7 linked regions of the Homo sapiens genome follow. The protein of the gene in region 3 purifies or fractionates together with the protein of the main gene of each other region. This does not show direct contact. Each region holds a gene or a part of one and is shown on either strand. Other genes may lie near its edges. The genes, in order: ZZEF1, MAIP1, BRD1, SCML1, TOR1AIP2, LIMA1 and RNH1.

Evidence for each region.
Region 1: the proteins of BRD1 (region 3) and ZZEF1 purify together in Homo sapiens (affinity purification with mass spectrometry; 2 studies listed by BioGRID and IntAct, with this or other methods). This does not show direct contact.
Region 2: the proteins of BRD1 (region 3) and MAIP1 purify together in Homo sapiens (affinity purification with mass spectrometry, with the first as the bait; one large-scale study listed by BioGRID). This does not show direct contact.
Region 4: the proteins of BRD1 (region 3) and SCML1 purify together in Homo sapiens (affinity purification with mass spectrometry, with the first as the bait; one large-scale study listed by BioGRID). This does not show direct contact.
Region 5: the proteins of BRD1 (region 3) and TOR1AIP2 purify together in Homo sapiens (affinity purification with mass spectrometry, with the first as the bait; one large-scale study listed by BioGRID). This does not show direct contact.
Region 6: the proteins of BRD1 (region 3) and LIMA1 purify together in Homo sapiens (affinity purification with mass spectrometry; one large-scale study listed by BioGRID and IntAct). This does not show direct contact.
Region 7: the proteins of BRD1 (region 3) and RNH1 purify together in Homo sapiens (affinity purification with mass spectrometry, with the first as the bait; one large-scale study listed by BioGRID). This does not show direct contact.

What each region holds. Positions count from the first base shown.
Region 1 is NC_000017.11:4,136,531-4,140,030, reverse strand, and holds part of ZZEF1 (zinc finger ZZ-type and EF-hand domain-containing protein 1), read left to right. Parts: intron 1-3,500. UniProt on the Homo sapiens protein: Histone H3 reader which may act as a transcriptional coactivator for KLF6 and KLF9 transcription factors.
Region 2 is NC_000002.12:199,958,582-199,961,599, reverse strand, and holds part of MAIP1 (m-AAA protease-interacting protein 1, mitochondrial isoform 1 precursor), read right to left. Parts: intron 2,333-3,018; coding exon 2,261-2,332; intron 1,847-2,260; coding exon 1,720-1,846; intron 1-1,719. UniProt on the Homo sapiens protein: Promotes sorting of SMDT1/EMRE in mitochondria by ensuring its maturation.
Region 3 is NC_000022.11:49,772,783-49,775,873, forward strand, and holds the end of BRD1 (bromodomain-containing protein 1), read right to left. Parts: intron 2,964-3,091; coding exon 2,809-2,963; intron 1,635-2,808; coding exon 1,451-1,634; 3' UTR 501-1,450; downstream 1-500. UniProt on the Homo sapiens protein: Scaffold subunit of various histone acetyltransferase (HAT) complexes, such as the MOZ/MORF and HBO1 complexes, that acts as a regulator of hematopoiesis.
Region 4 is NC_000023.11:17,750,993-17,754,492, reverse strand, and holds part of SCML1 (sex comb on midleg-like protein 1), read right to left. Parts: intron 2,679-3,500; coding exon 2,527-2,678; intron 1,236-2,526; coding exon 1,101-1,235; 3' UTR 1-1,100. UniProt on the Homo sapiens protein: Putative Polycomb group (PcG) protein. PcG proteins act by forming multiprotein complexes, which are required to maintain the transcriptionally repressive state of homeotic genes throughout development.
Region 5 is NC_000001.11:179,871,304-179,874,803, forward strand, and holds part of TOR1AIP2 (torsin-1A-interacting protein 2), read right to left. Parts: intron 1-3,500. UniProt on the Homo sapiens protein: Required for endoplasmic reticulum integrity. Regulates the distribution of TOR1A between the endoplasmic reticulum and the nuclear envelope as well as induces TOR1A, TOR1B and TOR3A ATPase activity.
Region 6 is NC_000012.12:50,179,021-50,182,520, forward strand, and holds part of LIMA1 (LIM domain and actin-binding protein 1), read right to left. Parts: intron 3,018-3,500; coding exon 2,884-3,017; intron 1-2,883. UniProt on the Homo sapiens protein: Actin-binding protein involved in actin cytoskeleton regulation and dynamics. Increases the number and size of actin stress fibers and inhibits membrane ruffling. Inhibits actin filament depolymerization.
Region 7 is NC_000011.10:500,743-504,242, forward strand, and holds part of RNH1 (ribonuclease inhibitor), read right to left. Parts: intron 1,508-3,500; 5' UTR 1,421-1,507; coding exon 1,320-1,420; intron 1-1,319. UniProt on the Homo sapiens protein: Ribonuclease inhibitor which inhibits RNASE1, RNASE2 and angiogenin (ANG). May play a role in redox homeostasis. Required to inhibit the cytotoxic tRNA ribonuclease activity of ANG in the cytoplasm in absence of stress.

The sequences.
Region 1 (3,500 bases), on a different chromosome or scaffold from region 3:
CATTTTCCACATTCCAACAAGCAAGAAAGGGAAAAGGGAAGGAGAAGGAAGAAGCCATGCCCACTCTCTTACGGGCATAGCTTACATCCCACAGGCCAAAATTCAGTCACATGGCCGCAGTTACCTGCAGGACAGGCTGGGAAAGATTCTTTTTCCGTGGCCATATATTCAGCTAAAACTCAGGGCTTAATTATTGAGGAAGGGGAGAGAAAACATTGAGTTATATTTGGCAGTCTTTGATTCACATAGCTAGGTCATACAGTTCTGTGAGTGAGGCTTAGCCAAGGTTTAAAAACCTGATTGTGATAATCTCACAGTGGCCACCGTCTCTCATGATAATCTTGTGATGGCTGCTCTGTCTGTAAGAACTAGTAAGTTAGGACTAGCCAAAGAAGATAAGATTTAGCCATGCATTTGATTCTGTGCTTTAAGAATGTCTATCCTTAGACTTGAATAAGTATATACTTTTGTGCATACTTACACAGTTAATTCTGCGTTGTTAATCTACGTCTAAGCTTTTGAGAATATACTGCTGTATTTTACTGCAAGATGAAGGGCTTGTGAAGTAATGTCTTTATAGTAGCAACTAAAATGACAAGTTGTTTCCGTCATTCGTTTTTATAAGAGCTAACATGGTAAAACAGATAGCCACGGGTGCGCATGGTTTATTATAATGCTGAGAGTTTCCAAGTGTTACATGTTTCTTCTTTGGCTTCCCAACTTACGCTGCCATTGGTGTCCACGCAGCTGTCTTGCTTTCACATTCCTGTGACCTCAGTTATTTGAGGAGGTGTTATAAAGAAGTTCTTGGAGTTGGACCATGGACCAAAGTCTGAAACATTATCATTTTATAGTACAACACACCTTTTCTCATGGTAGGTGTGGTCCAGGGAGAAGGTGCGCATGGTTTATTATAATGCTGAGAGTTTCCAAGTGTTACATGTTTCTTCTTTGGCTTCCTAACTTAGCTGCCATTGGTGTCCACGCAGCTGTCTTGCTTTCACATTCCTGTGACCTCAGTTACTTGAGGAGGTGTTATAAAGAAGTTCTTGGAGTTGGACCATGGACCAAAGTCTGAAACATTATCATTTTATAGTACAACACACCTTTTCTCATGGTAGGTGTGGTCCAGGGAGAAGGGACTCTCTCAGTTTGCTCACAAGGAGCAATATTTAATTAACTGCCATGTAGAGGGGAAATAGAATTAAAATTAAGTTCTTATTTCACATCAGAGGTTATAGATTAGATATTTATGCTCTTAGAGTATGATTCTAGAAAATCTTCTAGGGCAGAAAAACGTGCTGAGTACAGGATAACAGATGGCCCTAAAGTGAAATTTCATATGAATAGGTTGTGTTTTATTAATTTGCCACATAGTTTTGGTGCCTACTTTGTGAAATTCGTGGGGTGGTAAGCTCTAAGGGAAGGGCCTTTTTGATTCATCTCTGTTCATCGTCTTAGCACAGTCCTGGGTGGTTGCCAGTGCCCAGGTGCTTTGGGAGACTGTAGAAGTTGTAGTCCACACACACTCAAACCTCATATTTTATATTCAGTCTGTAACCTTTTAATATTTCTTGACATTGAAGGAAACGGTTAAATATGATTTTTGTGAAAACTTTAAAAGGTTCTTAGTCACTTTCGGGTTTACAGGAAGTTTGTAGAAAAGCCCTGTGCTCGTCTTCATATTATTATGTGAAAAGTATTAATCAACTAATTTAGAATGGCTTTGAGCCCAGGAACTGTGCCGTAGGAATCTGCAGATGTGATTATCTGCCCTTTTAAGACTATTGACTGTAAGAGCTGTGTGTGTGCACCATAAAGCAACAGCAGGCTGCCAGCTTTTCTTGCCTTCAGCCGGGAGCCCTCAGCTCTCCACTACCCAAGGGACCAAATATGTATTTGTCTGAATCGGTTGAAGCCCACACATCAGCCTAACTCTCTCAGCTAATTTACCTTTCCCCCACCTGCACTAGCCCTGTGCTAGCTAGTGGGATGCCTGCTTTGTTCCTAACTCCCTTACCTAATTTATCTTCCCCCTACCCCCGCATGAGCCCTGTGCTGGCTAGTGGGACACCTCCTTTGTCCTGTGTATGGACCTTGCTATCAGTTCTTGAAGATTCCCCACCTTGGCACTGTCACCTGGTCAGCACCACATCTTCTGTGGCATGATTCAGATAGTGTCTCCATAATGGTGTTTTCAGCCCTACAGCTGAGGCTCCTGTTACCTGTTCTGTACAGATCCTTTGGCACTTAGAGCATACTGTCTGGCCTTGCTGTGCAACTAGGCTGTGAGGCCGCCAGCCACCTGCCTGCACTACCATTGTACACAGGAGGTCTTTGGTAAGGGATGGCTGGCTGTGGATGGTGATGAGGCAGTACAGGAAAGATCCTTGGTGAGTGGAGATTATTATTATTATTATTTTGAGACAGAGTCTCTGTTGCCCAGGCTGGAGTGCAGTGGCACAATCTTGGCTCACTGCAAGCTCCGCCTCCCAGGTTCACACCATTCTCCTGCCTCAGCCTCCTGAGTAGCTGGGACTACAGGCGCCTGCCACCACGCCCGGCTAATTTTTTGTGTTTTTTAGTAAGAGACGGGGTTTCACCGTGTTAGCCAGGATGGTCTCGATCTCCTGACCTTGTGATCCGCCCACCTCGGCCTCCCAAAGTGCTGGGATTACAGGCATGAGCCATCGCACCTGGCCGAGTGGAGATTATTTTTGCTTACTTTGGCTTTGTGTGTTTTGCTATGGGGGAGTTAATGGTATTGGTTTCTTTGGAGAAATTCATGACCTAGGAGAGCTATGGAGGAAGGGCCACAGCTCTTTTGTCTCTCCCTGATTTCCAAAATACCACCTCACCATGGTACTGCCTTGCTTTAGAAACTTCAGTGGCTCCCCATTGCCTTCAGAATCACATCTGAATGGTGGAGCAGCCTTTACACTCTTATACCTTCTACCCTTGTCTCCCAGTGCTCTTTAAGCAGCCACTTTATGGTCCCGTTTCCCATGTATGTGGGAATTTTGTCCTTTGCTCTCCTTCTCCTCCTGTCTGCTCCCTGCTCCATCCTAAGCCCACTCCAGTTTCAGGGACCACAGAGAAGCAGTTACCAGCAGCATGGAGTTTGAGAAAGGCTTCATCACAACAAGGCTTGAGAGGCTGGAAGAATTCGCCTGGCAAAGGAAGGAAGGGATTTGCCGTATGAAAGGCACAGCATATGCAGATATACTGGAGTGAGAGGGCATGGCACGTTTTGGGAATGATCCTTTAGCACCTAGCCTACAGTCTGAACCAGCTGGGACCTTGGTACTCATTGCCTGCAAGCTGCCCCCTCTCTGCCCCCGAAAAGGGACCCCTTTCATAGCAACCTGGACGGGTGTGTAATTAGCCTGTAATGGCATCAGCGGGTTTGCCGTGTTATGAGTCTGCTCATTCTGCTGTTCTTCAGACTGAGCTTGGGAACTGGGCCTCGAGCCAGCCTGCTTGTGAGCAAGTTCTAGTTC
Region 2 (3,018 bases), on a different chromosome or scaffold from region 3:
TAGGGTTTATGGCATACTTGCCCTCTTCTCTGTATCTCAGTAATAAAACTACTACTTAACTGAGCACGTACTTTACTAAGTATACTACATGGATTATTTTCAATTAGTGGCATTTTCTTTTTCTTTCTCTTTTTTTGACACAGAGTCTCACTCTGTCACCCGGGCTGGGGTGCAGTGGCGCAGTATCGGCTCACTGCAACTTCCGCCTCCCAGGCTCAAGCGATCCTCCCACCTCAGCCTCCTAAGTAGATGGGACCACAGGCACGCACCACCATGCCCGGCTATTTTTTCATATTTTCAGTAGAGACTGGGTCTTGCCATGTTGCCCAGGCTGGTCTTGAACTCTTGAGCTCAAGTGATCCACCTGCCTCAGCCTCCCAAAATGCTAGGATTACAAGTGTGAGCCACCACATCTGGCCAGGCATTTTCTAAGATTATAATAATCTCCTGACAGATACCTGTTGTCAAACCAAAAATGAGGAGAAAAAAAATATTTTTTGCTGCTCAGTAACTATCTTAACTTCAACTGCCAGAAAGAGTAAAGGCTTCCTATTCTACCCAATTCACCTTACTGTGCCTGGTGATTCTGACAAACTCCTGATGCAAAAATTAGTTAGTGACCATGGTGCTGAGATGCAATTTGAAATATTAGGGAAGCGGAAAATATTTATCACTAAAAATATCTTTACAAATATTTCAAAATAATGTGTGCATGAAAAATTTTATCATCACTAAGAGTCTTTTTCTTCCATCTTGGGAAGTGTATAAGCAGAGGCTCCATTTCCTGTGTGGCTGGCACATAATACATATGCAAATAGAGTCATCCCTCAAAATCCACGGAGGATTGGTTCCAGGACCCCCCTGTGGATACCAAAATCCACAGATGCTCAAGTCCTTTATATAAAATGGTGTAGTATTTGCATAACACACATCCTCCAGTATACTTTAAATCATCTCTAGATTATTTATAATACCTAACACAATGTAAATGCTAATGTAAATAGTTGTTATACTGTATTATTGAGGAATAATGACAAGAAAAAAACTGCACATGTTCAAGTACAGATGCAACTATTTTTTTTTAATATTTTTTACCCTAGATTGGTTAAATCTGTGGATGCGAAACCCCCAGATACAGAGGGCCAACTTTGTATGTATCAGGAACAAACAGTGAATTATCAGGAATGCTATAGGGAAAATGTATGCCTCAGACAAGAAGAACCAGATAACCACTAAATTTCCTACCAACTTTTTTCATTATTCTCAAATAGATCCAATTTGGGAGTTCTGCAGTTAACCTTTTCAAATTGTCTTTAGCTGACAATATCTAATTTGATTTTCTTTTACCCCTCATTCCTTCCATATAAAGTGCAGCTTTAAAATACTCAATTGTTTCCTTCAAGTTAGGAAATCTGAAACATAAATATTTTCTATTTGAGACGTGGGAGCCACTCAAACTATTTTCATCAATGTAAGTGATGATGTTCTCTACTGTGAATAAAATAGTAGCAGAAAAAAGTTCTAGATAGAAAGGCTTAAGAAATGATGACCATATCTCAACTCTTTCAGAAGTAGGTCTTTAAAGAATGGATATAACATTTTCTTTGAAGTTCTATAAATACTTGTCCTGACAAAACTCTACTATTTTGTGATTATCCACTAGTTTAGCTTATCTGGACAATTATGGATCATTTCAAGTTGACTATGCTCTGGTATTACCTTTCTCATCATAGTAAATGGAGATGTCTCCTGTTGATGTAAATACAATTTCATCTATGTTAGCAGCAAGGGCATTTTTATGGTTGTCAGGTAGTGAAGTAACCTTTTCTTTCAATGCATGTAGCACCTAAGTTTGAAAAAAGCAAGCCATTAGTTCACTGATACAATTTTTGAAAACTTTCAAAAAGTGATCTTTATCATGGAATACATTTTTCCAAACCTATTTTTAAATTTACTACCGTATTTACTCATCCTCAAAAGCAAGGCTGAAATGTATCTCATTATTCAAGTAGGTAATTCCTAACAGAACATTCCATATAAGAGCAATTGGAAGACATCATGATTACTTCATTATGCCTTAAGTGGCAGGAGTTATTCCATGCTTTTATATGACCCAAAGTACCCATAAGAACAGATACACAGACTCTACTTTGGATGCTGGCACACACACTATTTTTAAGCATAAATAAGGAAAATGTGCATCATTCTATTGCAAGAGAATAGCATTTATTTTTAAAGCAAAATGTAAAATATACTTTACCTCTTTGGCCACAAGTTCTTCCAACAGATCAAATTTACACTGTGACAGCAACTTGGATACATGAGCAAAAGCCTTGAAAAAAATATTAAGGGAAGTGTGGGGATTATTATTTCAAAATACCATACCATGTTCATATTTAAATGGCTAAGTGTAATACAGACTATTTTATGGTAATAGTGATAAACAACATCAAATATTAATTTATCAAGGCATGACTCTTGGTTGACTTTTCATATATGGCCTTCCCACATATATAGCAGTAAGTGACTTGACCTTTAATTCTGGATCCACTCTCAGGACCGGGAAATGATAGTGTGTGGTGTACAATCTAGATGTCTCAATAAAAATCCTCCTTTATATTTCTTTTTAAAATGATGAAGTAAACAATCATTTGGCAGTTATATGACCTACCTCTTAATCATGCATAGATAGCAGTTGGAAAGGAGAACAGTCGAGACTGCATTGGGAGTCTGGAAATCTGGGCTGTAGTCTGAATCTCAGTATGGGAGATAATGTAGGTTTGGGAAAGTGGGAGAGAAGGTCATTAGTTTATGTGGTCTAAAACAGTAGATCCTAACTTTGAAGTATGAAATTCCATTTTCAAGGAGGGAAAAACCCAACTGCAATTCTCCTCACTGCTAGCAATGAGAAAGCAAACTGTGAGTTAAGATCCTACCTGTCTTCAGGGAACTTTCAGTCTACATGGGAAAAGGACAAGTAAACTGACAAGTTGAAGAATTTTGACAGGGATAAGAACA
Region 3 (3,091 bases):
GAGAAGGGGTGCAAACTGCACCCGCCATTAGCTGGGCTTCTCGGTGGTAGCCCTGAGTGCTCCACGGCCTGTCCCCACCTGGCTCCTGCACCCGCTTCCTTTCTGCGTGGGCTTCCTTTCTGCGTGGGCGGTGAGTGATCCTGGGGGCCACCAGCTGCTCGTGGTGGGGAGGGGCCTGCCGGGCGGGGCTGGCTGTGGGAAGGAGAGCCACGACAGATAGGAAGCACCTGCCAGATGCAGGACAGCAACTATCTAAGGAAGACTTGATTTCCAAGTTTCTATGGAGATGTTACAAACGGTGTAGGCTTAAAAAAAGCATTTAAAACTTTTATGTAACTGAAGTTTTAAAATAAAAATATGATCAGGTGAAATAACAAATAATGCCATCCCATGACAGTTTTCAAGATAAAGGCGTGTCCCCGCCCCCTGCAGCCAGCACCCCACCCGTCCTTGGGGCTCACCTAGCCGTCTAGGGCTGTAGGAATAAAATGGCCACACCGTCCAAATCTTGACTTTATTTTTAATATAAAAAATGCAAATTTGGAAACCCACCCTACTTTCCCCAACATAATGCTTTACCTCTTAAAAATAAAAATAAAGTACTAATTCTATATACATCACAGGTACCATACAAAAATGTATCCAAAGTTTCTATTGCTACCAAAGTGTTCTAAATTAAAACAAGTTACAGAAAGCCCCTCATTGTAAACAAAAGATTACAAGTTATAAAATCAAAGTACACACAGGCCAGAGTCATTTATACAATGCAATGCATTCTGCTCCCAAGCCAAGTTGAATTTTTATGTGCCTGTATAAAAATGCATATCAATATACCTTTGCAAATGTATTTTTCATTATAAAGCAAATGAATACACTTTCTACAATAAATAATCCGCTGGGAGGCACACCTGCGGGGTTTGAGGTGGGCGGGACGACGGGAGCGGGGACACACCCACCGGCGGTCACGGGCAGCGGAGTGTTTTTGGTGATCTGCAAGTGATGTACACAGCATAACTTTATTCTCCCCTCTTTCCACAAAGTACCATTCAAAATAATGTCATTTTCTTTCTTAAAATACACATTTGTCATTGTAAATTTACATCCCGTCTTATTAAATAAGTGGTACTCTGTGTAAAGAGCATGATTTACAAAATTATTAAACATTCAAAAGTCTTTAAGAAAAAGCTACATATCAAAGAAAGTGACGCCAGCAGCACGGCCTGGGGACGTGCGACAGACGCACTGGGCTGCCCGGACGTGCCCACCCCACTCACAGCGCCCAGACGGAGATGGGTTCCTAGAAAACTTGGAAATAAAACCTCCCCCCTCCCCGGGGAAAAAGAATTAAAGAGCTATAACTAAAAATCAGAATAAGTTAAGTTTTGAACAATATACAAACATGTACAGCTTATCAACACTATGGACAAGACCCGCGCTGGCGGCCGGGCCGTCAGTCAATGTCACTGAGGTCGCTGGTCGGCTCCCCGTGGACGCGGCTCAGGTGGTTCATGGCGCGGTCAAAAGCGATCCGCACGGCCTTCCGGATGCTGGAATTCCTCCCTTCCATCATCTTTAACTTGTCTATAGTTTCGTCAATACCAAGGGGAACCATTTTGGACTTAGGAAGCCACTGCCTTTTTAAAAGGAAAAACAAGCGGAAAATCATTGCTTGCACATGGTATTTCAGCAGGCTCCATGTAATCATCTAACAAATTCACTGCCCTCCGATAGAAAGGGGCCCTGCTCAGCACCACCAAGACAGCTGGGCCCCGTGCAGGGACAGGCCCGAGGCCAGGAGTGCACCCCTCCCTTCCCCTCCCCGACTTGGGGATACGGGGAGCTAAGTAAGGCATAAAAACCATCACCTCCTCCTCCACCTCCAAAACGTTTCCCAGTGCCTGCTTAGTGACAAGACATGCACACACCAAGCCCAGAGTCAGGGTGGGCCCTGGAGCAGAGGCCGGTGGTTGGGGAGACCCCATCAAAGGGGCCCTCGGATGGACAAGGTGTGGGCCTCGCTCAAGGCCTGACAAGAAGCAGTGGCCACGTGGCCAAAGAGGCAGAGGTCGAGGCAAGGAAGAGAAAGACGGTAGGGATGCCTGTGCTGCCAGTCCTGCTCCAGGCACACCATAGGCAGGTGGCCCCGAGCCCCTGCGCCAGGTCCCAAGTGCAGCCAGCTCCACGGGGAACCAGGAAGCACCTGCCCGGGCCACGTGCGCAGGGCACAGCCGGGGCCACAGCTCCTCCCAGAGGCATGTGCTGCCAGCGTGTCCTGCACAGAGGGATCTTGGGGTCTAAACCCTGGCACATGAGGGTCCCAGACGCTCTGGGGAAAAGCAGCTCAGGGCACAGGGGGAGCCTCCTGTGATGGGGTGGATGTCTGAGCAGAGCTGGATGATGCTGGGACAGAAGGCTCTAAGAACAGGGCCAGAGGCCAGGCCCGGGCAGGGGCCATGTCCTGCAGTACAGGGGTCCGGGAGCACAGCAGAGGGACCCCCAACACTGGAGCGGACACATGGGTAAGGAGTAGGGAAGAGACAGTCCAGACCAATGGGGCTCAGGCGAGAGGGAGAGGAAGCCATCGGGCAGAGACAGACCCGGTGCTCAGTGCCCGTCCCACAGTCCCGGCGAGGGGGCTGGGCAGTGCCCTTCTCCACCAGGCAAACAGCGGAGCACTCACCTCCGACTTTAGCTGTGCCAGGGCCCAGCAGACAAAGACGCTGCTCACCACAGGGACACTCAGGTCACCGAGCCCACGGCCCCCAACCACCCCAGCCGGTCCCCGGAGTCTAAGGCCTCTCAACTCACCAACTTCTCTTATTATCAAAAAAGAGAACGAGGAACAGCTTCTCATCAGACTTGGTCTGCATGTGCTCCCCAATCTTCAGCACGTCCAGGGGTGGGGCCGGGATGGTGACGCCGTTGTGGTGGCCAGGCACACGGGGCATCTTGGGGTCGATGATCTGCACGAGAAGGACCCGCTGAGGTCATTGTGAGGCTCACACCCATAAACAACCCCACCTGTCACTGGCACCCCCCCCCGCCTCCCCACCCCAGCTGTGTGAGCCTCCTCAGACCACCCCCACGCCCC
Region 4 (3,500 bases), on a different chromosome or scaffold from region 3:
TAATTAGAAACATTGCATAGGACGGAGAACTTCCCTGTATGGAAACCAATCTACAGATTGTTTCTTGTCCTCTAAAAAGTAAGTTGAGAGGTACTAATGATGGCAAATAATCCATTTATATTTTACAAAATAAAACATTTCACTAATATATGGCTCATCCTACCTCTGTGGCAATACAAAATGCCATTTCAAATTTTTTTTAAAAAGATTGTGTGAATACTTCGGGTGAGAATAAAATATAAAATACTATCTATATAAAGAATAAACACATAAAATACAGTTATGCCTTTTAAAAGTTTGGACAGACGTATCTTCATAGAGAGATGCAAACAATGAAAGTGTAGTTATAGGTCCAAACTTAGCCAAAATATGACAGTTTTAATATAATAGTTTGTTTGAAAAAAAGTAGTCAGACTTCATCCAAACCACCCTTGCGGTACAATATTTCTTGCATAAAATAACCATTCTATCTATCCTATAGTTTATCTTAAAACTGTTAAGAGCACATAATAAAAGTTTATATGCTTATTTTTTACTCTAAATCTGAATAAATAAAACATATAGAGAAATAATAGCAGAAAGGAAAATAATTTATATGGCTATTCTCTTTCTGGAAACTTGTAGAATACTGCAACATCAGACAGATAAAATACTCCAGAAAGAGATATATATGGGTACACCTTTAAATTCTCTTCTGAGGAATAATTCCCATAGATTCAATCATAGGAGTTGTCAACCCTGATAATACCTCTCTTAGCTGTTTTGGTTCTCTGTATCGAGATGAACCAGAATCAAAGGGTTTTTTTTTTTTTCTGTTTCTTGCATGAAATATATTTGTAAACAATATAATAAAAGTAATTTTTAAAGACCTATAAAGAATGAATTTTCTATTGGACTATTCTAATACTATCTAGCAGTTTAAATGGTTTTTAAAGAAGTAGACTGGACTATAACATAGTTCTACAATTCTAGCTATAATATATTTTGAGAGATACTTTCTACAAAACAAAAACGACTAAAGGGCAGAAAAATGATTCCACACTAAGAAGGCATTGGTGCCTCTAGAAGTTGGCCCAATCTAAATTTGCACAAGGATTTTTTCAATTTTCAAAGCATTTTCCTTGTTTAAGTCGGTCAATGTAGTAGCATAGCTTCACAGCCGTTCCCAGCTTCACCCCCAAGTGCTTCAGCAACACGTCACTCGTGAGTAGGAGCAGAGCCTTCCCGTCAATTTCCTATGGAGAGAAGAAACTTAACGATAATTAATAATGCTTCCATATTTTCATCAGAATGGTTAGTTCTTTATGAGAACATGTAAAGCAAACTAGAGAGCAGCTCATTGCAGATGTATATTCTCTGAATATGCGTCTACTTTATGAAAACTATTAAAAATATAACTTGTACAGTGAAGCACCGTTTGGTAATGTATAAACTCATTTCAAGTTCTGAGAAAAAGGAAATTTAACATAATATCTTAAAAAATAAACTGTGTCAAACTTAATTTTAAATATATACTGTATGTTGAATAAAATACTACACATCCATGACAAAATAGTAAAGACTATGAATAGTAAAAATGAATTTCAGATGTTCATTAACTTTCTGAGAAGGGCTGGGAAGATGAGTACGTCAACATCAGTGCAAACTGTAAATGTCTATACAATGTTGTCTTTATGATGAATGCCAATTAGTTGTCTGAAACTAATTAGATGCTAAAACTAATCACCAATTTTCTTACTATATTAAAAATCAGATATGTGGCTACTAATTTTGTTAGGACACACTGTGAAAATATCTGAATAAATAAAACATAGTCACAAAGCATTCTCCTAAAATTCCTTATCTTAATTGATCAACTTATGCTGCTGAAGCATATGATTTGGTTTTATATGTTCCAGTTAAAAAATAAAATTTTATTTACTCATTTAACACTATCTGAAAAGGTCTGAAATCCCTTATAGTACAACCTTTGTTTGGCACCTTCTATACTTTTTCTACTAAGTAAAACTCAAAATTAAAGAAACTAGAACTTACAAAACTTCGGCCTAGGATATTACTTTGTAAATGGTCTGATAATAGCAAGAGGGTATTAGCATTACAAATCATCAATAATCGAGGCAAATGGAATCAGTTGTTGAATCACTGGTTATATAAAACGAAGGCCACCCTGTTATAGCTTGTGGTTACCCCCTCCTCCTCGTGGTCCTGGTGCCCAGCTGGGAGCAGATAGGGGGAGGATCTTTGTATCTGTCATTACAAAGGGGAGGTACACCTGAGTGGCCATGCTGAATCATCATGTCTTAAGAAGCTGAGGCAGTTTGTATTTTAGGCACTTCTACACCCATTTAAAGAACAGACCATTAGCCTACCATTTAAGGCTAACCTTGGGCAAAATAAGCTTTCTCATATATGGAAAAATCAGCTAATAGGGTTCTCCCACCATTCACACAGTATCCAACTGAAAGACCTGCACAGAGGTCATTCAAAGGCATTACAGCAGGAAAACAGGATCAAAAGATACATTACATGGCTTCTGAAGAGGTCGACAAGAGGGCATAATGCAAGAGGATCTGTTTGTTTTAGAAATAGGACCACTGCTTCCACCGACCAGGTTGAAGGGTGCTTAGTGATGCTTCCTTCCTCTATGTAACCGTCATTTTCAACTGGTGACCTTGTAACTTCAATGGAGAGGGGGAAAAGAAAAAAAAGACAAATCACACTCGACCTGATCATTATCCTGAAAGAAGAGATGTTAGGTAAGGAGGAATGCTCTCTTTGTTGGAACCTTCTGTGATGTTCCTAGCAAGGAGTCAAGACTCCAACTGTAAAATCTAGTGAAAGCCTATATAAAGATGATGTGGGGATGCCTACACAAGAGTGTCCCATCTGACCTCCCCTAAATAGCAAAAGCTGGTTCAGAAGTTACATTAAAGTTTCAAAGATCACAAAACAGACTAAGTAAACCAAGTCTTCTTTGGCCACAGGCAAATATGGCAAAAGATCTGTCACTTGGGTAAAATTAGGTTAATCTAACCTAACCTATGACTCTCTTCAAGTATTTCAAGGAATTTCTCTCTTAATCTATCTAGATTAGGTTAATTTTACTAGCAAAATATAATGGAAATTCTCCAAATTTACAGTTTTATAATTGCTTAAATTTGTTCCTTTTAATCAATGAATCTCAATAACAACCCCATTATCTTTAAGAACCAAATTAGTACTTTTATCAAATCTTCCCCACGTATTCAATAAGGTTATTTTTAGTATCGCTTTACTTTTTAGATTCCTGTCTCTCGTGGCTTAAGTGCTAATGTGCATTGTGAAGAAAACAAGATTATTTTCTGCTGAACTAGGTCAGAAGTAACTAACATTTTATTTAATTCCTCTTTCATGTTTAATTGCATAGTAATAGAGATTTTGGTCAAAGGTTTATATGTTTAAAAAATAACTGAGATATGAGACAGTTTAACTGCTCATACTTCAGAAAGTTTTAGCTATGC
Region 5 (3,500 bases), on a different chromosome or scaffold from region 3:
TAAATTTAAGATCCTTCCTGAAACTTTATTAAAAGAAAATTTAGAAAAGAAAATAGTACTTTCACACCAAAATAGAAAATGTAGTTCTATTTAATCCACTGAAATTTACATCAACTAACCATGGCAACTTTTTAATTAACTTCTCTAAATAGTCTATCTTGTTCTTTGCTATTTCCTGAATGTATGTTAGTAAGTTCAAATCTGCCTTCAATAGATAAAAATTCCCTTATTCTTTTTTGTGGTAGCATAATAATTAAGTTTCAGACTGAGTCTGGATTGGAATGACTTTTCCAGGCAATTTATCCCTTAGACTTCAGCCTCAACCAATTCCTCATATGATACATAAAATCAAGATAGGCACATAGAAAAAGTATAAATGCTTTAAACTCTCTTGAATTCCCATTTTAAATATTTTCTTCTAGGGGGTACTACAGTCAAGGCTAATCAATAATCATAACTTTTTTTGTATGAGATGGTTTCTCCAATAAGTTTCATACACAAAGTGAAATCTTAAGAGTTTCCTATTTCACAACTACCTTAGATAATGAGAGATTAAGGAGTATGAAAAAAGGAATCATTCTTCTTTTTGAATTCATATAATCTAAAATAATTTTTTGTTGAAAATAAAATGCTCCTGGAAAAAAGTCAACTTGTTTTGTGAGAAACTACTTTTAATTTGGCAATCTTGAGATCACTGAGAGAAGGCATATGGATGACAATCTTCAGTACTATTTAGTACACACACTGTTCCCTCTTTAGAACAGAGAAGCCAAATAAAAAATATTACCCAAGGTTAGAAAATAGCTGCAGAATGTTCTCCTCTCTCTTGCCCCAGGAACTGACAAACGAAACAGGTGTGTATGCATTGCTACCATACTTTTTGAGGGGCATGGCCATAAAGGAGAACAACTGGTTTGGAAACCTACTGGTACATTTCTATCTATGTTGCTCTAATGCTCCAAAAGCCCATGGTCCAAATTCTGTCTACAATTTCACTTCAAAACACCAGCAGCCAAACCTTTAAGGCTAATACACAACTTTCAACAGTCAGATCTGGTGCCAAGCTTAGGTATTTCTATAACTTGTGCTAGCTATTTATTGTCTGTCTAAAACTAAATTTCTAAGTCTTGCCCACTCCTCTGTACCATATCCACTGTCATAATATCCCAGCATTATTATTTTCACAATTTTTCGTTTCTCTGTATTTTCACTAACTGGTGACTTATTCTAGATTTTTGAAAGAAGTTTGAAAAAGTACTAGCCTCGGAACAAAAAGCACTCTACTTCCTTAGGGAATTGTTTTTTACACAGGAATTGAATGCCTGGCGCAGATCAAATTCTACAGATATTTTCTGAGTGCAGAAAGCCTTCCTTTCCTACTTACCCTTTTTCATACTCCCTCCCAACTCCTTTGACTTGTATCTCTAGTTTCGGTTGACCACGTAGAGGTATTAAGCTATGCACGAAGGATCTAAGAGTTTGCTAAGATTTCTGACAGTGGGTGGCACAACTGACTGCCAGGTTTAGTTCAACTTCCCTAATCACTTTTAGTATCTACTTCAAGTCAACATATTTTTATTAAACTTTTTATTTTGAACTAATTTTAGACTTACAGAAAAGTTGCAAAAATAGCACACAGTTCCATTATATCCTTCATCTAGCATCTTACATAATTAAAGCATAGTTATCGAAAACAAGAAATCAACATTGGCACAATTCAATTAACTAGAGGCCATATTCAGATTTCACGATTTCTTTTAGTTGTTATTTTTCCTTAGTGTCTAGTCTATGACAGTTCCTCAGTCTTTACCTGTCATTTGTGACCCTTTCTTGTCTTTGTGACCTTGACACTTTTGAAGAATACTGGTCAGTTATTTTGGGTTCGGTGTTTTTTGTTTTTAAAAATAGACACGTGGTCTTGCTATGTTGCCTAGGCTGGTCTCGAACTCCTGGGCTCAAGCGATCCTCTTGCCTTGGCTTCCCAAAATGCTGGGATTACAGACATGAGCCTCTGCACCTGACCTGGCCAGTTATTTTGTAGAATGTTCCTCAGTTTAGAGTTTTACAATATTTTATCATGATTAGAAAGATAAAAAGATTATGCATTTTTGGCAAGAATAACAAACGTCACAGAAATGCCGCTGTGTCCTTCTCACTGCCTCTTTGGGTTCATGATGTCCTTGTCTCATTACTGGTGATGTTAACCTTGATCACTTTGTTAACATAGTACCTCCACTGTCGGATTACTATTTTTTCTTTGTAGTTAATAATTATCCTGGGAGAGATACTTTGAGACTATGTAAATATTCTGATTTTCCTCTAACTGGATTTTGTCTGCAACAACTACTATGGTACTGTTTCCCTAATGGTGGTTTTGTATTTCCTTCTTTCCTTCTATGTTTATTAAATGGAATTCTTCTGTTAGAGTTGTCCCTTCTCCCCTACTTATTTATTCACTCAGCAATATCAGTATGAACTCATTTTATTTTATGGGTTAAAGTCCAATACTATCATTATTCATTTTATTGCTCAAATTGTTCCAACCTGGATACCAGGAACTCCTTCAAGTTGGCTCTTGGGTCCTTTCGACAAGGTCCCTAACTTTTTGTAGCATTTCCTTACTTTCAAGCACCATAAGATTTTTCAGGCTCATCTTGTATTTTCTCTGCTCCCGCACTAAATCAGCCACTTCTCTAAAAAGTCCTAGTTCCTTTAAAAACCAAGATCTGAATGCTCAGTGCTACTGGGGTATAACTATCAAGTCAACAATATGGACAACAAGTGTTTGTTTCCTTACTATATTAAACTCACTAGCTGGGAATCACTAGCATTACCTGGGAGCTTGCTAAAAGTACAAATTCAGGCCCCAACCTAGACCCACTAGACCAGAATCTCTGAGAGCCTCCTACAGGAATTTATGTTTTAACAGATTTGCCAGATGACTCTGGTGTTCACTATAAAGTAGCTGGGTGTGGCAGTGTGTGCCTGCAGTCTCAGTTATTTGGGAGACTGAGGTGGGAGGATCGCTTGAGCTCAGGAGTTCAAGTTTGCAGTAAGCCATGATAGTGCCACTATACTCCAGCCTGGGCAACACAGCAAGTCCTTGTCTCAAAAGAAAAAGAAAAGAAAAAATAGTTATAAAGTACCTTTATACAGTACTTCAAAATATACTGTAGTCAGGTATGGTGGCTCATGCCTATAATCCCAGCCTTTTAGGAGGTTCAGGCAGGAGAGGACTGCTTGAGCCCAACGGTTCAGAGACCAGCCTAGGCAACATATCGAGACCTTGTTCATACAAAAAATACAAAAATTAGTCAGGTATGGTGGTGTGTGCCTGTAGTCTCAGCTACTTGGAAGGCTGAGGTAGGAGGATCACTTGAGACTGGGAGGTCAAGGATGCAGTGAGCCGTGATTGTGCCACTGCACTCCAGCCTGGATAAGAGAGAGAGATCCTATCTCAAAAAAGAAACAAACAAAAAACTGTAAATACTGTTACTTTT
Region 6 (3,500 bases), on a different chromosome or scaffold from region 3:
GCTGGAGTGCAGTTGCACAATCTTGGCTCACTGCAACCTCCGCCTCCCAAGTTTAAGCAATTCTCCTGCCTCAGCCTCCTGAGTAGCTGGGATTACAGGAGTGCGCCACCACGCCTGGCTAATTTTTGTATTGTTTTGTTTTGTTAGAGTCTCGCTCTGTCGCCAGGCTGGAGTGCAGTGGCATGATCTCAGCTCACTGCAACCTCTGCCTCCTGGGTTCAAGCGATTCTCCTACCTCAGCCTCCTGAGTAGTTGGGACTACAGGTGTGTGCCACCATGCACGGCAAATTTTTGTATTTTTAGTAGAGACGGGGTTTCACCATGTTGGCCAGGATAGTCTCGATCTCTTGACCTCGTGATCTGCCCGCCTCGGCCTCCCAAAGGGCTGGGATTACAGGCGTGAGCCACCACGCCCAGCCATTTTTGTTTTTTTTTGAGACAGAGTCTCGCTCTGTCACCCAGGCTGGAGTGCAGTGACACGATCTCAGCTCACTGCAAGCTCCGCCTCCCAGGTTCACGCCATTCTCCTGCCTCAGCCTCCCGAGTAGCTGGGACTACAGGCACTCGCCACCACACCTGACTAATATTTTGTATTTTTAGTAGAGACGGGGTTTCACCTTGTTAGCCAGGATGGTCTCAATCTCCTGACCTCGTGATCTGCCCACCTCGGCCTCCCAAAGTGCTGGGATTACAGGCATGAGCAACTGCACCCAGCCATTTTTTGTTGTTTTTTTTTTTGAGTGGAGGTCTTGCTCTGTCACCCAGGCTGGAGTGCAATGGTATGATCATAGCTCACTGCAGCCTTGACCTCCAGGGCTCAAGTGATCCTCCAGCCTCAGTCTCAGCCTCCCCAAATTTTTCATAGAGATGGGATCTCCGGCCAGGTGCAGTCCCAGCACTTTGGGAGGCCGAGGTGGGCAGATCACTTGAGGTCAGAAGTTTGAGACCAGCCTGACCAACATGGTGAAACCCCATCTCTACTAAGAAATACAAAAATTGGCCAGGCGTGGTTGCTCACACCTGTAATCCCAGCACTTTGGGAGGCCGAGGAGGGCAGACTGACTGAGGTCAGGAGTTCAAGACCAGCGTGGCTAACATGGTGAAACCTCATCTCTATGAAAAATACAAAAATTAGCCAGGCATGTTGCACACGCCTGTAGTCCCAACCACTCGGGAGGCTGAGGCAGGAGAATTGCTTGAACCTGGGAGGTGGAGGTTGCAGTGAGCTGACATCATCCCACTGCACTCCAGCCTGGGCGACAGAGCAAGACTCCATCTCCGGAAAAAAAAAAAAAAAGAAAGAAATTAGCTGGGCGTGGTGGTGCCCGCCTGTAATCCCAGCTACTCAGGAGACTGAGGCATGAGAATCGCTTGAACCTGGGAGACAAAGGTTGCAGTGAGCCAGGATCACACCACTGCACTCCAGCCTGGGCAACAGAGTGAGACTCCATCTCAAAAAGAAAAACCAGATGGGGTCTCTCTATGTTACCCAGGCTAGTCTTGAACTTCTGGCATCAAGTGATCCTCCTACCTGGGCACTCCCAAAATGCTAGGATTACAGGTGTGATCCTTATATCCACACCTAGATATAAGCTTGATTAATAGAAGAATGGTGAGGAGTTGACAGGAGGTAGTTTTTCCCTAATGTCAGTCCTAGACAAGCCTTTAGGAGATTTGGTGTCTCTTGCAGGATGATAAGTTTTATCTTTTTAAAGTTTTTTCCCTTAAGTTACGAACCATTCTGAAGAGTGACAAATGTTAAAGGGGGTATAAAACGGCAGCACTTCCACAAAAGAAATAAGGTGCTTTAAGCCAGGCACAGTGGCTCACACCTATAATCTCAGCACTTTGGGAGGCCGAGGCGGGTGGATCACGAGGTCAGGAGATCAAGACCATCCTGGCTAACATGGTGAAACCCCTTCTCTACTAAAAATACAAAAAATTAGCTGGGTGTGGTGGCGGGCGCCTGTAGTCCCAGCTACTTGGGAGGCTGAGGCAGGAGAATCGCTTGAACTCAGGAGGTAGAGGTTGCAGTGAGCTGAGATCACGCCACTGCACTCCACCCTGGGCAACAGAGTGAGACTCTGTATCCAAAAAAAAAAAAAAAAAAAAAGGTGCTTTGGAGAAAAAAATTAACACAGTGGGCAGCAGAAGAACTAATGAGTGGAAGTGACTGAGGTACACTTTGGCTGCATGTTTGGAGAAGCTGTCTAGCTAGAGCTATCTAATAGCTAGAAATGTCACACAGATGCCAAAACATCTTTCAAGAGTATTTTAGGAAGGATTGCTCAGAAAGGAAAGCTGGAGAAAGTGACATCTTGGTTACTTCCTTCTGTAAGACTCTATGATTAAAATGAGTTAATTTGGAATGTTTCCCCGATTTGTCACATTTATATTTGCACTTTGAGTTACTTGGAAGAAATGATATGTAACAACTATTTTCTCAGAAATAAAGTGAGGCAACATAGAGAAAAAGACATGCTCTCCAGGGGCTATTATTATTGCCATTATTATCATTTATACAGTGGTTAAGACAAGTAAGGGCTTAAACAAGTAACCTCTTGAGATTTCTTAACTTTGTGATTCTGTGATACCAAGGGAAAACATTCTATTAAATTAGGTCACAGGGGGGTTTACCTGCAACTCATATTATTTAAGCTTCGGTCCTAACATGTAAATTAACATATCAATACACCAAGAAGTTCCAAACACCATCATTATTTGGTATGAAAGACTTGTCACTAAATGATGCTTTTTACTTTATTCAAGAGCCTTCAACAGAATATCATTAGCACAGTAGCTTTTAGCACCAGTGCTCTAAAAGCCAAAGACTCCCTCTAGAGTTCCAGTTATAGACAGATGGCTTGTTTTGGGCTGACTTACCTGAGTTTGTTGTTGCAATAGGAGCAACGGAAGCAGCTGATGTGAAACACCTGCTGGTTGGCCAAGAGACGCTCCATTGGATAGACTGTCTTCTGACATTCCACGCAGGTCTCTCTTGCAGGTGCCTGAAACTTCTAGGAAAAACAAAAAGACAACTTTAGCATGGGCAGCGATGAGTTAGCACTGTCTTGAGATGGACCCTAGAATTTACTTTGTCTAAGGGCTCCCTTAGCTGGTCAGTCAATTCTCATGGAGCACTAAACCTGCTACAATTCTATCAGCTGACTCTTTAAAGCCAAGAGGCTCTCTTGATATTCCCTTCCCAAACTGTGTGGCTGCTCTAAATGTAGCAGCCACCAAGGATAGGTGGAGCTACGTCTGGATTACAAAGAATGGCTTAGACAAGTCACGACCCACATAAAAAATGTTAGGAGCAGGGGATGGGGGAAGGGGTCGGGGGGGGGAGTGCAGGGATTAGGAGAAAATGTTATCACACACAGAAGAAAGAAGTTTGATTCAAGTGCCAAGTAAACACAAGACAGATTCTAAAGGGGATAAATTTCAAGGAGAGGAAGAGCATTTGGCTTTGGGAATTAGGAAAGACATTTCAGTAAAGC
Region 7 (3,500 bases), on a different chromosome or scaffold from region 3:
CAGTGGGCCCAGAAGACAGCAAGGCAAGTCACACAAGACATTTCAGAAATGAAACAAAAAGGAGGAACTGTTCCATGAAAGTTTTGTTTAAGATGCTCGCACGTGGCCAGGCGCGGTGGCTCACGCCTGTAATCCCAGCACTTTGGGAGGCCGAGGCAGGCAGATCACCTGAGGTCGGGAGTTCAAGACCAACCTGACCAACATGGAGAAACCCCGTCTTTACTAAAAATACAAAAGTAGCCGGGCGTGGTGGCGCATGCCCATAATCCCAGCTACTCGGGAGGCTGAGGCAGGAGGATCACTTGAGCCCAGGAGGTTGAGGCCGCATAAGCCATGAGGGAGCCACTCCAGCCTGGGTGACAGAGCAATGCCCTGTCTCTAAAAATAAAAAGAATTTAAAGTATCTCTCGAAGGCACTGATCAGTCACAGGAGGAAAGGCAGTGGCGTCACAGTGGAGAGGGTGGCAGACGGCGCCTGTGACAGGACGCTCCTGGCAGGCCCCACGGCATCTCCCTGCATTCCTGCCAAAACTGTAGGACTTCAACCACAAGAAACCACCAGACAAGCCCCAACAGAGGACGTCCTGCAGGAGCCTGGCCAGACCCTCAGACCACCAAGAACCCAGAGAGACGAGGGGACAGTCACAGACGGGAGAGGGCTAAGGAGACAGAGGGCTGAGGGCCACGCAATCCTGGACCAGTGAGGAAGACGAAAAGGGCAGGGCGGAAAAGCAGACCCTGCCTGGAGGTGCTGGGCCAGAGCTAGCGTCCGCAGGTACACAGGACCACCTCACCAGGGAGCCCCGTCCGGTCCTCGTAACTCCTCCGCAAACCTGACACTACTTGAAATCACCAGGTAAAAAGAGAAAAGATGCGGCCCACCCAGGCACTCGTGTCCTGCTTGTGAAGCTGCTGGGTTTGTGAGGACCTCGAGGGCCGAGGACTCCCAGCCCCCAGCTTGGCAGGGACAAGCAGCGCCCCATGGAGGCTCACGGAGGGGACCCAAGCTGTGTCCTGCCCTCGTGTCTCCAAGGGAGGGAGAGGAGCTGAGACACCGGAGCCAGAGACCCACTGGCCAGTGGCCGCCCACCTCGGCCCGCCCACCTCAGCCCATGCTGCATGAGCCTGGAATGGGTTTTACATTCCTAAATTGTCAAAAAGAAACACAAGAATCACATCTCATGCACGTGGTAGCTGCACAGAATTCATACTTCATGTCCACAAACAAGGCGTTCCAGAGCAATGCACCCTTCAGAGGGAGCCGCCACCCGCCAGCCTGCCCCACCAGCACCCCAAGGCCACCCCGAGAGCAAGCGTACCTGACCACTTGGCACTGCTGGAGCAGAGGGAGGAGCTCGGCCCATCTAGCGTCGCTCAGCTCCTCACACTGGATGTCCAGGCTCTGGATGTCCAGGCTCATGGTGGAGGTGAAGAGTGGCCTGGGTGGGAGGCAGAGGGAAGAGGACGTCTTGGCCGAATCCCCTCACAGTTTCACAGGCCGGAGATTCTGCAAACAGGACCCACAGGGCTGATGTTTCAGGAGGAGCCGCAGCCTCTCCCTGGGCAAACACTTCCTCTTCAGCACCCTCCCCACCTTTGTCTCTGGAGCAGACATCAGGGGTGGGGCAGGGGGCAGGGACCAGCACCCACCCCCAGAAAGGCCACCATGGGCAGCAGAGCTTGGGTAATGCAGATGCCAGCCCATCTCCTGGCTATCACCACCCAGCCTCTGTGGGCACCTCCTCCTGCCCCACAGAGGGCGGGACAGCAGCAGCCCGGGAAGCCCCTGCCTCTCATTTGCTTGGGCAAGGACAGGGTAGGGTGGGGTGGTCTGTGAGCCTGGAGGCCCCAGCAGGGGAGCAAGGGGGTCTGTGGGCTTGACCTGTGTCTCACCCTCAGGACAGGCAGACTGTGCGGGCCAGGCAGGCTGCCCACAAAGCCAGAGACCTCCCAGGATGCCAGGATCCTGGACCCGGCCACAGTGTCCGAAGCAAGACAGAGCAGGGGGGCGGCCACTTGGGGTGTCAGCTTCCATGGCCCCCTTCTGGGGTTGGGGACTCTGCACCAGGCTACAGCACATCCCCTGCCCCACGGCACACTAGCCCAGAGGCTGGGCTACCAGGCAAGCTGGGTGGGTCAGCCTGGGATGGGCACAGCTGCTACACCCTGAAGCCTCCCCAGGCACAGGCCCTGAATATGGAAGGAGGTTCCTGAGGCCCTGAGAGCACAGCTCAGGTACCCGCCAGGGGCCTGGGGAAAGTGGTCAGGCAGAGACAGCCACCCCAAACCTTGGTTGGTGGATACATTCCCTGAGCACCTGCCAAGCACTGGCCTGGGGACTACAGCAGGGCAGGAACCTGGAGAGGAGGCTTGGATGGCCAGGAAGGCTCCCTGGAAGCAGCAGCACTGATGCCACAATGCGGGGAGGGGTGGGTGGGGTGGGGAGAGGGCTCTCATCCAGAAGCCCCAGAAAGTTGGCAGGATCCACTTGGGGAAATGATGCAACCCCAGCTGCCCTTCAGAAAGACGGCCAACAGGACCGCTTGAGAGGCTCCTGGTGCCCTGACACCCCCAGCTTCCTGAGTCTGTGTGCCTGGCACTCCTCTCCCCGGGGCTGCTTCAGAGGCGGCTGGTCCACTCTGCATGAGTGGAGGCAAGAGGCCCCTGGTACCAACTGGGAGGAAAGACGCAAGGCTGGGCTCGGGTCCACACGCCTGGGCGCCCGGCCTGCAAGGACAGTGGCAAAGGGTGGTGACATCCCACGGCCCCACATGGAGGAACTGAATCCAACCGACCCGAAGCACGTGAGCAAAACCGACCAGGGTGTGGTCACCCAAATTCTGACTCCAGAATCTAGTCATCAGGAGGCACTGTGGGCGGGAGGGCGGGTGGAAGGAGAGCCTCAGGGGGCTGCCCAGGGTGCACACGCTCCCCAAATCCAGCCTGACACTCCTGTGTCCTCTGCAGCCAGATGAAAGGTGGCCCCAGGGTGTCCTCCTCCTGGGAAAGCTTGGTGGGAGCTCAGGGTGGCCAGTGCTCCCGTGACCATCTGCAACTAGCGCTGCGGGAGTAGCCCCGTCCCTACCCCTCAGGCTTGGCCAGACCCTGTTGTATCCCAGAAAGGCCCTTCTGAATCTCTGTGGGTCACGGATCCCACTGAGGACCCCATGAAAATGCGGGAGTAAACGCCCTTCTCTGTGACTGGAGAAGTCCCTGGCTCCCTACACAGCCAAAGCTAAAAGCACATTCAGGAACCCACTACCACCAGCTGGCAGCCTGCTTTGGTTGAGGCAGGGATCTGAACAGAGGCCCTAACGGTCCCTTATCCGGAGACCAGACTTTCTCAACCTTACGGAGGGAGGTCTCCGCAGCACCCAAGGCCTGGGCCCCACCCTGGGGAGCCACATGGGAGGGGCCGTCTGGAGGCCAATTCAGGTCCTTATGTTCCGACGTGACGGGGGCGCGGGGCCACCCTCTAGGGAGACACGGGCCACGCTCAG